Linked DNA regions of Homo sapiens. The protein of the gene in region 1 interacts with the protein of each later gene in a biochemical or structural test. Each region holds a gene or a part of one and is shown on either strand. Other genes may lie near its edges.

Region 1 (4,418 bases):
AAAAGGGAAAAGTGTAACAGTACACAGGAGAAAAAGCAGCCAAAAGAAACTGACTCTGAGTGGAGCCAGATGTTTAACAAATACTTCAAAGCAACTAATACAACTCATAATAATCTGATTCAAGAAACTCAACAAAGCCCAAGTAGGAGAAATACAAAGAAAACTACATGTAGACATATCATACACTACTAAAAGCCAAAGAAAAAAAGAAATACTGAAAACTGCAAAAGAAAATTGGCTCATTATGTAAAAGGAAACAACCTCAAGACTACTGGCTAACTTGTCATCAGAAACAACAGAAACGTGAAGGCAGCAGAATGACATATTCAAAGTGGTGGGGGTTTAAAACACCCAAATCAACCAAGAATCCTATAAATGGTAAACTACATTCCAGAGAAACAAAAACTGAGAAAATTGTTAGCAGACGTACGCTATAAGAAATACTCCTACCATGCAAACACTAATCAAAAGAAAGCTGGAGTGTCTACATAAATATTAAAAAAAGTAGATTTTCACAGTAAGGAATATCATTAGAAATAAAAAAGGGCATTTCATACACATGATCTTAGCCAAAAGACAGAGAAGCAACTGGGCACTTCATAATGATAAAGGAGTCAATATATCAAGATATTATTCAAGTACCTAAGAACGATCTTCAAAATGCTTGAAGTCCAAAAGAACTGAATTAGACAGATGCATAATTATGGAGGGAGATTTCAATATTTCTCTCAGTGAAAGACTAAAAACTAAGAAAGACAGAGGAGGTGTAAAAATATATTTGGAAAATCCCTAAGGACTTGGAAATTGAACAACACAATTCCAAGTAATCCATTGGTTAAAAAAAAAATCACAAGTGAAATCAGAAAAGTTTGAACTAAGTAGAAATGAAAACCTAAAATATCAACATTTGTAGGAGAATGTTAAAAAGCTTAATCAGTACTCAGAGTGAAATTTATAACTTTAAATTATATTAGAAAAGAATAGTCTAAAGTTAATTATCTAAATTTCCAAGTACATAACCTAGAAAAATAAGTAGAGGGAAAAAGTAGAAGATAAAAAAGGTAATAAAATATAAATGGACAACAACATAGAAAGTCAATAAAACCAATACTATAGGAACAACAGGAATTCTCTTATATTGCTGGTAGAAGTGTAAAGTAATATAACTTTAGGAAAGTTAAGCAACTTTTTAAAAGTTAATGTTTACAATATTGTATGCCCAGTCATTGCACTCTTACGTAGTTACTCAAGACAAATAAAAACCTGTCCACAAAAAGACTTACACGTAAGTATTCACAGCAACTTTATTCATAATAACCAAACCTGGAAACAAACCAAAGATCCATCAGCAAGTGAATAGGCTTTAAAAGTATATACAAAAATATTGAACAATAAACATTAACTAGTGAAACATTCAACAATATGGATGAATCTCAATAATGAGAGAGAATGAAGTATTACACAAGAATGCTTACAATATCTGATTCCATTAAATTCTTGAACTGGCAAAACTCATCTATAATGACAAGATCAGTGATCATCTGGGCCAGGGTAGGGATGAACTGACTGCAAAGGGATATGGAGGGAACTTTTTGGGGTGACGGCATCTATACCTTGATTGGGATCATAGTTTCACTGGTCAAAAATCAAACTGTACCCTTAAAATGGGTATATTTTATTTTATAAATTATACTTCGTAGTAAAGGAATTGTTCGGAGTCTGTCACACAAATTTGTCAAGTAAACCCTTTGGTCCATGAACCAAAATATTTAATTAAAAAGGGCAGAGCTAATGACAAAACACAAAACCTGTTCAAAGAGTAATTACTACAGTAACATACCTTTCTCCAGAACTTCATTCTGAATTTTCTTCAAGAGTCTCAAGTACTTAAATTAGTGAAAACATGCTTATTTCTTAGTACCGACCTAATACTAATCTGAACCACTGAAATAAAAGTTGGAAATCTGCAGCCTCAACAGAAATGGTATCTGCAATTTTGTCCATACCAATAATTATGTTTCAGAATGAAATCTTACATTTCCTACAAAAATACAATTATTCATTGAGAGAAACTAGAATTAAATATAATGGTGTGTCAAACAATCATGTTACCTGTGGCAGAAAATGGTCATCTGGATAAATGAAAATAATCTTTGCTTTCTAATGTGTAAATCTCCTTTAGCAGGTGAGAGATTAGACGGAAGAGAATAGGAGGATCAACAATGAATACTTGAATAACCAATGCTTAAAGTAAATTAAGATCATTTTCTTAGACTCTAAAGTCTCTAAGTTATGTACAAAACTACATACTTCAATAGTATAGGAGCAATTATTTAACTCAGAGGATGATTAATAGTTCACAGAGAAGTTATTACCAAAAAAACGCAAATACGACATGATTAAGTTCAGTTAATTTACCCACAGCTCTTTTAATATAAGCTGTATGTAAATACTGATACTGAGAAATCTTTGCAAGAATAACTGACAGAAGTCAGAACATCATGCCTTCCAATCCATCCTCCATGAACTTCTTATAAAGTGCCATGAATTTGGCCACAAACGCTTCCAAGTGATAAATGGCTTTGCTACCCAGCTGTAGACGATGCTCATAGTAAGCTGCCATTTGTGCCACCTCCCCTTTCAGTTGTCCATCACAATTATGTAACAGTTCTGAGAGAAGGCCCTAAACAAAAATAATCAGTAATTTAAAAATCATTAATAAAAACAGCTAAGCATGCCTTATTTCTCCCATTCACAAAAAGACTAAAGTTAAACATACTCTCTTTATATGTGTGAGATCTTTAATTTTTTATGTGAATCAACGACCTTCATCCAAAAGCAAAAACTTTGGGTACTTTTTCCATGACATAAAAATGTGGTGGGTATCAACCACATTCTAAATTCCAAATATTTAACTGCACAAAGTGCAAGGATATAAGTGTAAGGATGCTTTCTGCAGCACTATTTATAATAACAATAATAATTTGTAGACAACCTAAAGTTCCACCAATGGAGGTCATATTCGGAAAAGCTATGATACAGTCACACAACAGAAAACCATTCATCCATTAACAGAACGAAGTAAATCTATACATATGGTCATGACACAACATCCATACTAAAGTGTGGAAAACTGAGAAGTTTTGTGAAACCACATATATACACGTACTTGTTTCTATGTGAATAGAAAAGAGGTCTGTTAAAAGTGGTTACCTTTGTGAAAACGGATGGGTGGAACTTCACTTTTTTCTTTGTAGCCCCACCCTCCATTATCATCCCTGCACCTTGGTATTTCCTTTACAGCACTTACAACACTCTGAAATTCTCTTCTTTATTTGTTCTCCTTTTCACACCACTAGAATATAACTTCACTTTAGGCAGGCCCTCCCTTCTTTTCTTCAGCATTCCTCTAATAGTGCCTGGCACACCATAGAGGTTCAGTAAATACGTGCAATTAATGCGCTGGAGAGAAAGAGGTGATATCTTGATACTGCAAAAAGCCCTATGATCACACACCCAGCGTCCAAATTTTATAGCTGTAAAAAGTTCAAGATCTGAAATTGGGTTACCTTCATTATTATCTCAGGAGGAATACAATGAGTTAGAAGCTCATACAGCCTTCCACGAACTTCAAGGAGCCTACATAAAACAAAATAATTGGTATTTTGTGAAGAAAATAAGAGGTAATTTTTCCAAATTCCCACTGTATGGTTTTACTTTATGAATTAACAAACAATCCAATACAGAATTAACAACTTTATGACCTAACTTTATGAATTAACAAACAATCCAGTAAGAAATAATAACTGTTTCTTAAATAGTTTACCATACTTAGGATAAACATATGGAGGCTTCTCCTAACTTCAGTTCATTTTTGAAACAGAACATTTTCAGAACTCTTTTAAAATGAGACGTCTATATTCAGGGTTCCTAATTATATCAAAACACCATGAAAATACCAGATAGAAATTGAGACTTCATGAAGAGCGCGGGTTGAGCTTATTCACACCATGGAATTTAACAAACTTTAATGACATGTCAAGTAATATGTTTTTCTTTTCTCCAGACAGATACCTGAAACATCCAGGAAATGGTCATGAAAAGATTAAAAAGTCAATTACATAGGTGACACAAGATAATATACGCATGAAATATAATACAATGCCACTGCCTAGATTGCACAGTAAAAAAGCAATGTGGCAGGGATACAGAGCTGTCCCTGTCATAAAAGGGGCGGCACAAAGGTTTACAGGTAAGCACGCAACCAGGCTAAGCGAATAGGAACATTCAAACCTCTGAGTCCTTCATTCTAGGCCCTTCTCATATTCTAGGGAGAGAAAGGGGAAGAGGAGGGAAATGTACATATGACGTTTTAAAACAGAAAAAAAAAAAAAAGAGAGAAAGTTCCAAATACACAT
Region 2 (8,566 bases), on another chromosome or scaffold:
ACTTGGGCATTCTTGGCATGAAGGGATTAATAGCATCTGGTAAACTAGTACAGAACAAGAAGAGAAGAGGGCCTTGGCCCCTGCTTCTTTGTGAAGTAGAAGAGGGTGGAAACCAAAAGGAAACTGAGAAGTAGCAGCTACAAATATGGGAGAGAAGTTTGATAAGCGTGGGATCACAGAAGCAAAGGGAAGAGAGAGTATTTCAAAAATGATTGAGTAGTTAAGTCTGTCATGCTGTTAAGATTCCAGGTAAGGGAAGACCGGAAATTGTTCCATTTAGTAACATGAATTAATGATCCTTAGTGGCCTTAGCAAGAGCTAAGGACAGTGGAGGCAGAGCCTGATGGAAGCGGGTGGAAGAGTGAGTGTGAGGAGACAAAATGGAGACAGCAAAAGTAGATATTTTTGATAAGTTTGGCTGTGAAGGAGAAAGAAGTGGGAGGACTTCTAGCTAGAAGGACTAGAAGGGGAAGTGACTTCTAGCTAGAATGGAAAGTGGAATTTAGGGGGAGATTTAAGTATTTTTATGGTAGGAGATATTTAAAGCATGCGTTTTGCTAATGGGATAGATCCTACCAGAAAGGGAGAGATGGAAGTTATACCAGCAGGAGAAGGAGAATCAATTGTAGCATGAGATTTCTAAGAAGGCAGGAGGGGAGGGGATAAGTATACAATATATGTATAAATTTAATTTTCAGTTTGCTTGGTATATATAAGTACATATAGAGATTAATAGCTCCCCTAATAAAGAGAGGGAGAGATGGTGTAGCTGGGACCGGAGTGGGGAGCGAGAAGGTCGGCCTTAAGGGGCTTATGGGTTTTATGGGAGCCTGCAGGAAGATGCCAGTCTTGCCTCCTGTACATGGGTATGAGAGACCAAACAAGTTCTGCTTGAGAGGACTTCAGTCAAAGTGGTGCCCTGAGGGGACAGACAGGTTTCAGTGAAGGCAAGGCTATGGAGGGAATGTTGGAGAAGAGGTTGAGGATACTAGGGGTGGCTGGCTGCTCCTGGAGTAAGAGCTTAGCCAAATTCTAGAATAGAAGAGTTTGATAGGGAGGCTAGAAGTGCTAAGATTGGATAAGTAAAAAGATAATCAGAGCCATAGTGGGTGATAATTTGGGAGATAATAGATGTTTGGGATATGGGATATAGGGGCTTGCATGTGCAATTTTTCCAGGGTTGTTTTGAGTTTGTTCAGAAGTAGTTAAGTTCCTGTAGTGTTACAGTAGATCATTTCAATCCAAGAACCCATAAAGGCTTCAAGGGACCCTGAGATATTGTTAGTCAAACCTTTTCTTTCCAAGCACCTTCATAGCTGTTTCTTTTTGTCTTCCGAGAAAGATTCTTCATCTGAATGGTGAAGGATTGAACTTACATGGAGGCAGTCTTTGAATTTTGGTTGGCTGCTGCTTTTCAAGCCCATTTTAAGTTTATTAATCTCAATTCTCTATTAAAAGAGTAATAAGTAACTTGGAATGTCATGTATAATTTTCATTTTGTTTGGTTGTATAATTTTATTGAACCATTGCAAAAATATATAACTCAACATAGTTCCAATTAAGATTTAATGTCTTTTCCATCCAGCTCTCTTTGGCAAGTATCTCTTATATTATACATTATGAGAGTTATCTTTCCAATCCAGAGATAATACGATCTTGCCTTTAAGTTACTAGAAGATTGCTAGATTTACTATCCTAGAGTAATGAGCAGAGAGGAAGGCACGAGCTCACACTTGCTTAGCTTTTTAGAATCAAAACTTTCCCTTTTTAACAATAGCAAGAGTTGCCTTTTTTCCCTTTTTTCCCATAAAACAGTAAAAATTTTTTATTAAGCATTATAAGTTGCATTCAGTAGCCTTCAGATATGCCACACCACAATCCATTGGCAGACCATCCAACCCAGCAGCAGTTTGTTCTTGTACAATCCATGAGTTCGGGCAAAACTCCCTTCAACTTACAGTTAAGATCCTACTTAGCTCTTGCGGGCAGGGATTGGGGAATTAGACCTCATTTCTGATCACTAATGTGGTGAAAAGCATCAGAAGTATTTGAAAATGATAAGAAGTGATTCTGATTTTAAAGTACATTGTTTCGAAACATTAACAGAAACATCAAAATGATAGGAGTATACCTGCTTCTATTAAATTCTTGTTGGGAAAGTTCTTAAGAACAAGCAGTTTCCTGAATAGCAAGAGTTTCTACAGATGGATTGCATTTGGTTGTTTATTTATAGTTATGCAAGTTAACTAGTAGTTTAGATATGAAGAGGGCATAATGGAAAATAGTATGAATGGGTAATTTTAATAGCTTTGCTAACAGTGTTGGATGTATGTTTTTCACTGCTTGTTTTGTAAGTTTATTAAACGTTAGCCATATCAAAATTTCTTAGGATCTAATTTCAGGTGGTGCTTATTTGCTGTAAATTTCCAGCAAACTTTCCATGCCAAGGTTATTTATGATGTGAAATGAGAAAAATCAACTTCCTGCAGTTTTGATGCCAAATGTTTCTTTGGAAAGCTACCATGTAATTTCCTCTCTGCTTGAACATTTTGGTTTTTAGGGAGCTGAAAATTGCTTGGAAGGCCTTATATTTGTAATCACAGGCGTGCTGGAGTCTATTGAACGAGATGAGGCCAAGTCTCTAATTGAACGTTATGGGGGAAAAGTAACAGGAAATGTCAGCAAGAAAACAAATTATCTTGTCATGGGTCGTGATAGTGGACAGTCCAAGAGTGATAAGGTGGGTACTGCTTTGTTCTCAACACCATGACACCTCCTGCCTGCCTTGGCACACTCTTGATGTGATTTGCCCTTTACTCAGAGTTAAATGAAGGAAAGAAATAGAAAAGTAATTTCTTGCCTACATTATTTCTTCTCCACAGAAGTGTTATTGGCTCTGACACCAGGATTTTGGTTTTCCAATGGAAGGCATAGTTCCTGTTTACTTGACTTTTTTTTAGTGTATTTAAGTTTAAGTCTTTTTTTATTTTTGAAGATAGAAACAAATGCAGTTTTCTTTTTCTTCCAGTCCGAAGTATTCCTATATATGCCACTGTATACACCATCTTAGGTTTTTTTAAATTGGTGTTTTTAGAAAAAGAATCAGCGGCCTGTTGGGTAGGATTGTGTTTAGCTCCAAACAGCAGAATATCTGATTAACCGTGGATTAAACAGCTGCTAATTTTTCTCACAAGAATTCTGGAGGTATTGCTGGGATAGTTCGGCATCTCAACGATGTGGTTCCTCCATCTGTCCTTATTGTGTTAACTTTTGTCCTCATGCATGTTGCCTTGTGGTTGCAAGGTAGTTGCAGCTCTAGGCATTTAAATTCTTATTCAAGGCAGGAAAAGGGAACAGTGGCAAGTATGTCATAAGAGCTGTGACTGGCCTGACGAGAGTTTTCCCAGAAACATGTCTTATAGAATTTCACATAAGGCTCATTGGCCAGAGCTGTCACCTGGCCACTCAGAGCTGTATGGGAGGTTGGGAAGAACCAAGACGTTTCTGGTTGCCTTGGACCAGTCATCATTCATCACTTGAAGAAGGACACATTGGAGTTCCATCAGCAGGGAAGAAGGTGGGGGAAATGTCTGCCATATGCATTAAATATGGGAGAAGGTATGAAGAGCTGGTCTTAGGCCCTAGTGGCCATTGCCCCTTTCTAGGGGAGGAAAGGTAAAGCAGTCCACAAAAGTAGAAATGGACCACTTCCCATGCCAACCTGCTACTCTTAGGGAATGTATCTGTTATTTTCTTTCTTTTCAATGTTACTTTTTCAATGAATGTGCTATTTTTTGTTTTTCTTTTTTAATTCCAGTGTTATCTTAATTTACGAATGTGGTTTTTCACCTACTAATAGGCCCTAGAATTTTTTTTTTTGTAAGAGAAGGGAATGGTAGGATGCAGGATGCAGTTTTGATGGTTTACATTTTTAATCAACAGGCCGCAGCCTTGGGGACAAAAATTATTGATGAAGATGGCCTGTTGAATCTGATTCGGACTATGCCAGGCAAGAAATCCAAGTATGAAATAGCAGTTGAAACTGAGGTTCGTATAAAATGAATGTGATTTAAGTTGGTGTATATTAACTTTTTAATTTCATAGACATATGTCTTGGGTGGATACAGGCTTGTTGGCTGAAAGATTAACATCCCTGTCTACCACAAATGGACCACCTTAGTTCCTTTTGAGCTGGAAGACTCTGCTTCAAGATGTCTACTTTGTTGTTTTTCCTTATCTTTGTCAGGGAATATGAGTAGAGAAAGGACAGTATATTGCATATAACATATCTACTTATCAAACTTTCCTTATTTTCCATATTACTATTATTACTACTATTTTTTAATTTTTTGAGACAGAGTCTAGCTCTGTCCCTCAGGTCGGAGTGCAGTGGTGTGATCTCGGATCACTGCAACTTCTGCCTCCTGGGTTCAAGCGATTCTCCTGCCTCAGCCTCCTGAGTAGCTGGAACTACAGATACCTGACACCACGCCTGCTAATTTTTATATTTTTAATAGAGACGGAGTTTCACCATGTTGGCCAGGCTGGCCTTGAACTCCTGACCTCAAGTGATTCACCCACTTCAGCGTCCCAAAGTGCTGGGATTATAGGTGTGAGCCACTGTTCCCGGCCATATTCTCACGTTGACTTTATGCAAAGGTTATTGTTTAAGAGTTCCTTAAAGGATATTTTAATAGGTATTAGCATGATAAATTTGTTTTCAATTAGAACTGTATTAGGACTTTTTAAATTGTGCAGACACCTAGCCTGTATTAGCTTTTGCAAAAGGAAAAATGTTGGCTCACATAACTAAACTATGGGCAGGGAGGGTCTGGTCTAGGAACTATTGGATCCACAGACTACAAAGCTGTGAGGACCCCTTCAGTTTCTGTCTCTCTGTTTCTACTAGTTAGCCTCATTCATTCCCACTGTAGACCATCTTTTTTTACACACAGGACACAGGATTGCCAGCATTCCAAGATTTTAATGTCCCCAGCTCTGTCACCCAAATGGCAAGATGGTCCATCCAGGTTATTCCGGTTAGAGAAATCTAGGGAATGATTTCGATTACATAACCATAGCATAGTTATAAAAACCAGGAAATTAACATTGATGCCGTATTGTTAACTAACCTGTACATATTTTTCGAACCTTACATTTTTCCCTGTAGTTCTTCTGTTCCAGGGTCCCACACTGCATTTAGTTGTGTCTTCTTAGTCTTCTCCCGTCGATGACATTTCTTCAGTCTTTCCTTGTCTTCTTACAACCTTGACACTTTTAATGAGTACTGGTCAGTTTTGTGGAATGTCTCTCAGTTTGGATCTGTGATGTTTTCTCATGATTAGGTTGAGGTTATGCCTTTTTTCTAAGAACACCATGGATGTGATCTTGTGTCCTCAGTGCATCCTATCATAGATACAGGATGTCAATAACGTCTTATTATTAGTGAGGATAATCTTGATTATTTGGTTAAGATGATTCAGCATCCCACTGAAACTAGTGCTGGGTTCCTTCACTAGTAAAGTGACTATTTTTTCCTTTGTAATCGATAACTGTCTTGGCAGGAGAAGGAGGTACTTATGCTTATATCCTGTTTGTCCTTAAACATTCATCCACTAATTTTAGCATCCACTGCTAAAGAGGCACTAATTTTTTTAAAAACTGAGATATTACATACTATAAAATCCACCCTTATAAAGTATACAAATCAGTGGTTTTTAGTATATTAACAAGAGTATACAACCATTAGCACTGTGTAATTCCAGAACATTTTCCTCACCCTGAAAAGAAACCCTGTACCTATCAGCAGCCACTCATTCTATCCACCCCGTGGCACTCACTGCTCTGCTCTGTCTCTATGGATTTTCCTATGCTGGACGTTTCACGTGTGTATGGAGACATTAGAATATATGGCCTTTTGTGTCTGGCTTCTTCCACTTAGCATAGTGGTTTCAAGGTTGACCTGGGTTGTAGCATGTATCAGTGCTTCAGTCCTTGTTAGGGGTAAATAATATTTCATTGTGTGGACACATCCTATTTTGTTTCTTTTTCAGTTGATGGACATTTGGATTGTTTCCATCTTTTAGCTATAATGTGGTTATGAACATTTGTGTACAAGTTTTTGTCGAGGCATTAACTTTTAATTAGGAAACTTTGAAACAAAAATCTCAACACTGTACCTTGTTTTTTTCAAACTAAAATTGGAGTACTTATTACTTTTAAAAATCAACGTGTTGTCACTTTTAGAAATTGCATTTGGTGGTTTCTGGTGTGTTTGTTAATTTTTATAGTTTAGAAGGTGGTGATTTCCACAAACAGGAAAGTCTGTTGTGAAAAGACCAGCCCAGGTTGAGTAGCCCACTTGGATATCTCTGATTGCTCTCTGTAGTACGTTTAGCAGGATAGAAATTCTGTATGTTTCATCAGGTTTCTTTTTTCCTCATTTTTCCACTTCTTAAGATGAAGAAAGAGTCCAAACTGGAGAGAACACCCCAAAAAAATGTCCAAGGAAAAAGAAAAATTAGTCCATCTAAAAAGGAATCAGAATCTAAAAAGAGCAGGCCGACTTCCAAAAGGGACAGTTTGGCAAAGACAATAAAAAAGGAAACAGATGTGTTTTGGAAAAGCCTGGATTTCAAGGAGCAGGTGGCTGAGGAGACAAGTGGTGACAGCAAGGCTAGGAATTTGGCTGATGACAGCAGTGAAAACAAAGTGGAAAATTTGCTCTGGGTGGATAAATATAAGCCAACCTCGCTCAAGACCATAATTGGACAGCAAGGTGACCAGAGCTGTGCCAACAAACTCCTACGCTGGCTCCGAAACTGGCAAAAGAGTTCTTCCGAAGATAAAAAACACGGTGATTTTACAACCTCACTCATTTTTGTGTGTGTGTATATCAACATGTGATTGCTCAGTGGCACATATATGAGAAAATCTAACGATTCATTCATCTGTCAGCAAGCATTTATTAAGAGCTTGATCTGAACCCAGGTGCAGTACTAGACCCTGCTGGTGGTGTTGTGAACAAAACAGTCCCTCTCAGGAGCTCACAGGCAGTGGGGGAGGCATATCTGAACCAGCCATTAAAATATATTTGCCAAGTACTGCTAGAGGGGTAAGTCCAGGGTGCTGTGAGGATGAAGATGTGTGGTCAGGGCCAGGGTGTGTGTGCTCCCATCCCAGAGGAAGGGATGGCTAAGCTAAGACTTGGAAACAAAGTAGGAGCTAGCTAGGTGAAGGGAGGGAGAGATGAGTGTTGGGTAGGAAAGAGTATGTGTCCCAAGGTCTGAAGCCATGTGACAGCAAGACCCCTGAGTGGCAAGGGCACTAGGAGGAAAGCTGTGAATAAATAACAGAGGCATGCGTGCAGGGCAGTCAGCCTAAACTCCCAGTAGCAAGCACGATTTGCTGTGGCAGGCCCGATAGGCCTGTGCTTCTGTAGTTTCTGTCCTTGTTTATGATGTATTATTTGTCGTGGAGAGTGAAAAGCTCCAATATGTATTTAATGTCCAAAGTATTTTCTTAACTGAGCTTTGAGATCACAAATGTTTTAGTAGTGTTTTCAACATAGACCAGTGATGACTAGATTGCCAATCATCATTGCCAATGATGCCTGTTTATTTATAAAAATAATATATTGTAATGATACAGGACTAAATTTAAGTTAAATCACTTTTTTCATTCTGAAACTTCATAAAATCTCCCTTAAAAGAGGAGACAGGCATTTCATGTGCCTGGAGAAGACTGTTTTTTTTTTGTTTTGTTTTGTTTTGTTTTGAGACAGAGTCTTGCTCTGTTGCCCAGGCTGGAGTGCAGTGGTGCGATCTTGGCTCACTGCAACCTCTGCTTCCTGGGTTCAGGTGATTCTTCTGTCTCAGCCTCCTGAGCAGCTGAGACTACAGGTGCACACCACCATGCCTGGCTAATTTTTTGTAGTTTTAGTAGAGATGGGATTTCACCATGCTGGCCAGGCTGGTCTTGAACTCCTGACCTTGTGCTCTACCCGCCTTGGCCTCCCCAGGTGCTGAGATTACAGGCGTGAGCCACCGCACCCAGCCAAGAAGACTGTTTTAAAGCTTCGGGTGAACTCTAGTCCCTGTCTTCATGCCCGCTGGCAGTAGGTTGAAAACCATTGTCTCTGTCAGTTATTGAGTATGAGTTGAGCATGATGTATGTGCCAGGTGCTCACGTGGTGAGGGGAGGAAGAGTGCTGTAGTGTTGAGGGGCACAAGGTAGTTGCAGACGCAGCATCTTCAAGTCATTTTTTCTTCTTGTGACCATGTAGCTACTATGCTTGTTAACATTTAGTGAAGCTTGCATGGCTCTGTGCTCAGCCATTCCGTCCTCACAACATCCTTAGCAGCAACTTTACTGTTGTTCTCCTCATCTAACAAAGGAGGAGGCAGGCACAGAGGGGCTAAGTCACTTCTAAAGTACCCACGGCTGGTGAGAGGTGGCATGAGGATGGATGGAGTTGGGATCGAGCCCCGGCAGCGTGCTCCATGGCCTGTGCGTTCACAGGAAAGGAAACTCATACAATTATTATTTCAAATCAAGAGTTTTAAGT

What was found. Proteins that work in one complex are often made in the same cells at the same time.
Region 2: the proteins of RFC3 (region 1) and RFC1 form a complex in vitro, tested with the Homo sapiens proteins (one study listed by BioGRID).

The regions. Positions count from the first base shown.
Region 1 is NC_000013.11:33,834,369-33,838,786, reverse strand, and holds the end of RFC3 (replication factor C subunit 3), read right to left. Parts: intron 3,640-4,418; coding exon 3,570-3,639; intron 2,684-3,569; coding exon 2,492-2,683; 3' UTR 1,324-2,491; coding exon of another isoform or gene 1,309-1,323; 3' UTR 1,287-1,308; downstream 1-1,286. UniProt on the Homo sapiens protein: Subunit of the replication factor C (RFC) complex which acts during elongation of primed DNA templates by DNA polymerases delta and epsilon, and is necessary for ATP-dependent loading of proliferating cell nuclear antigen (PCNA) onto primed DNA.
Region 2 is NC_000004.12:39,306,926-39,315,491, reverse strand, and holds part of RFC1 (replication factor C subunit 1), read left to right. Parts: intron 1-2,560; coding exon 2,561-2,740; intron 2,741-3,942; coding exon 3,943-4,047; intron 4,048-6,459; coding exon 6,460-6,856; intron 6,857-8,566. UniProt on the Homo sapiens protein: Subunit of the replication factor C (RFC) complex which acts during elongation of primed DNA templates by DNA polymerases delta and epsilon, and is necessary for ATP-dependent loading of proliferating cell nuclear antigen (PCNA) onto primed DNA.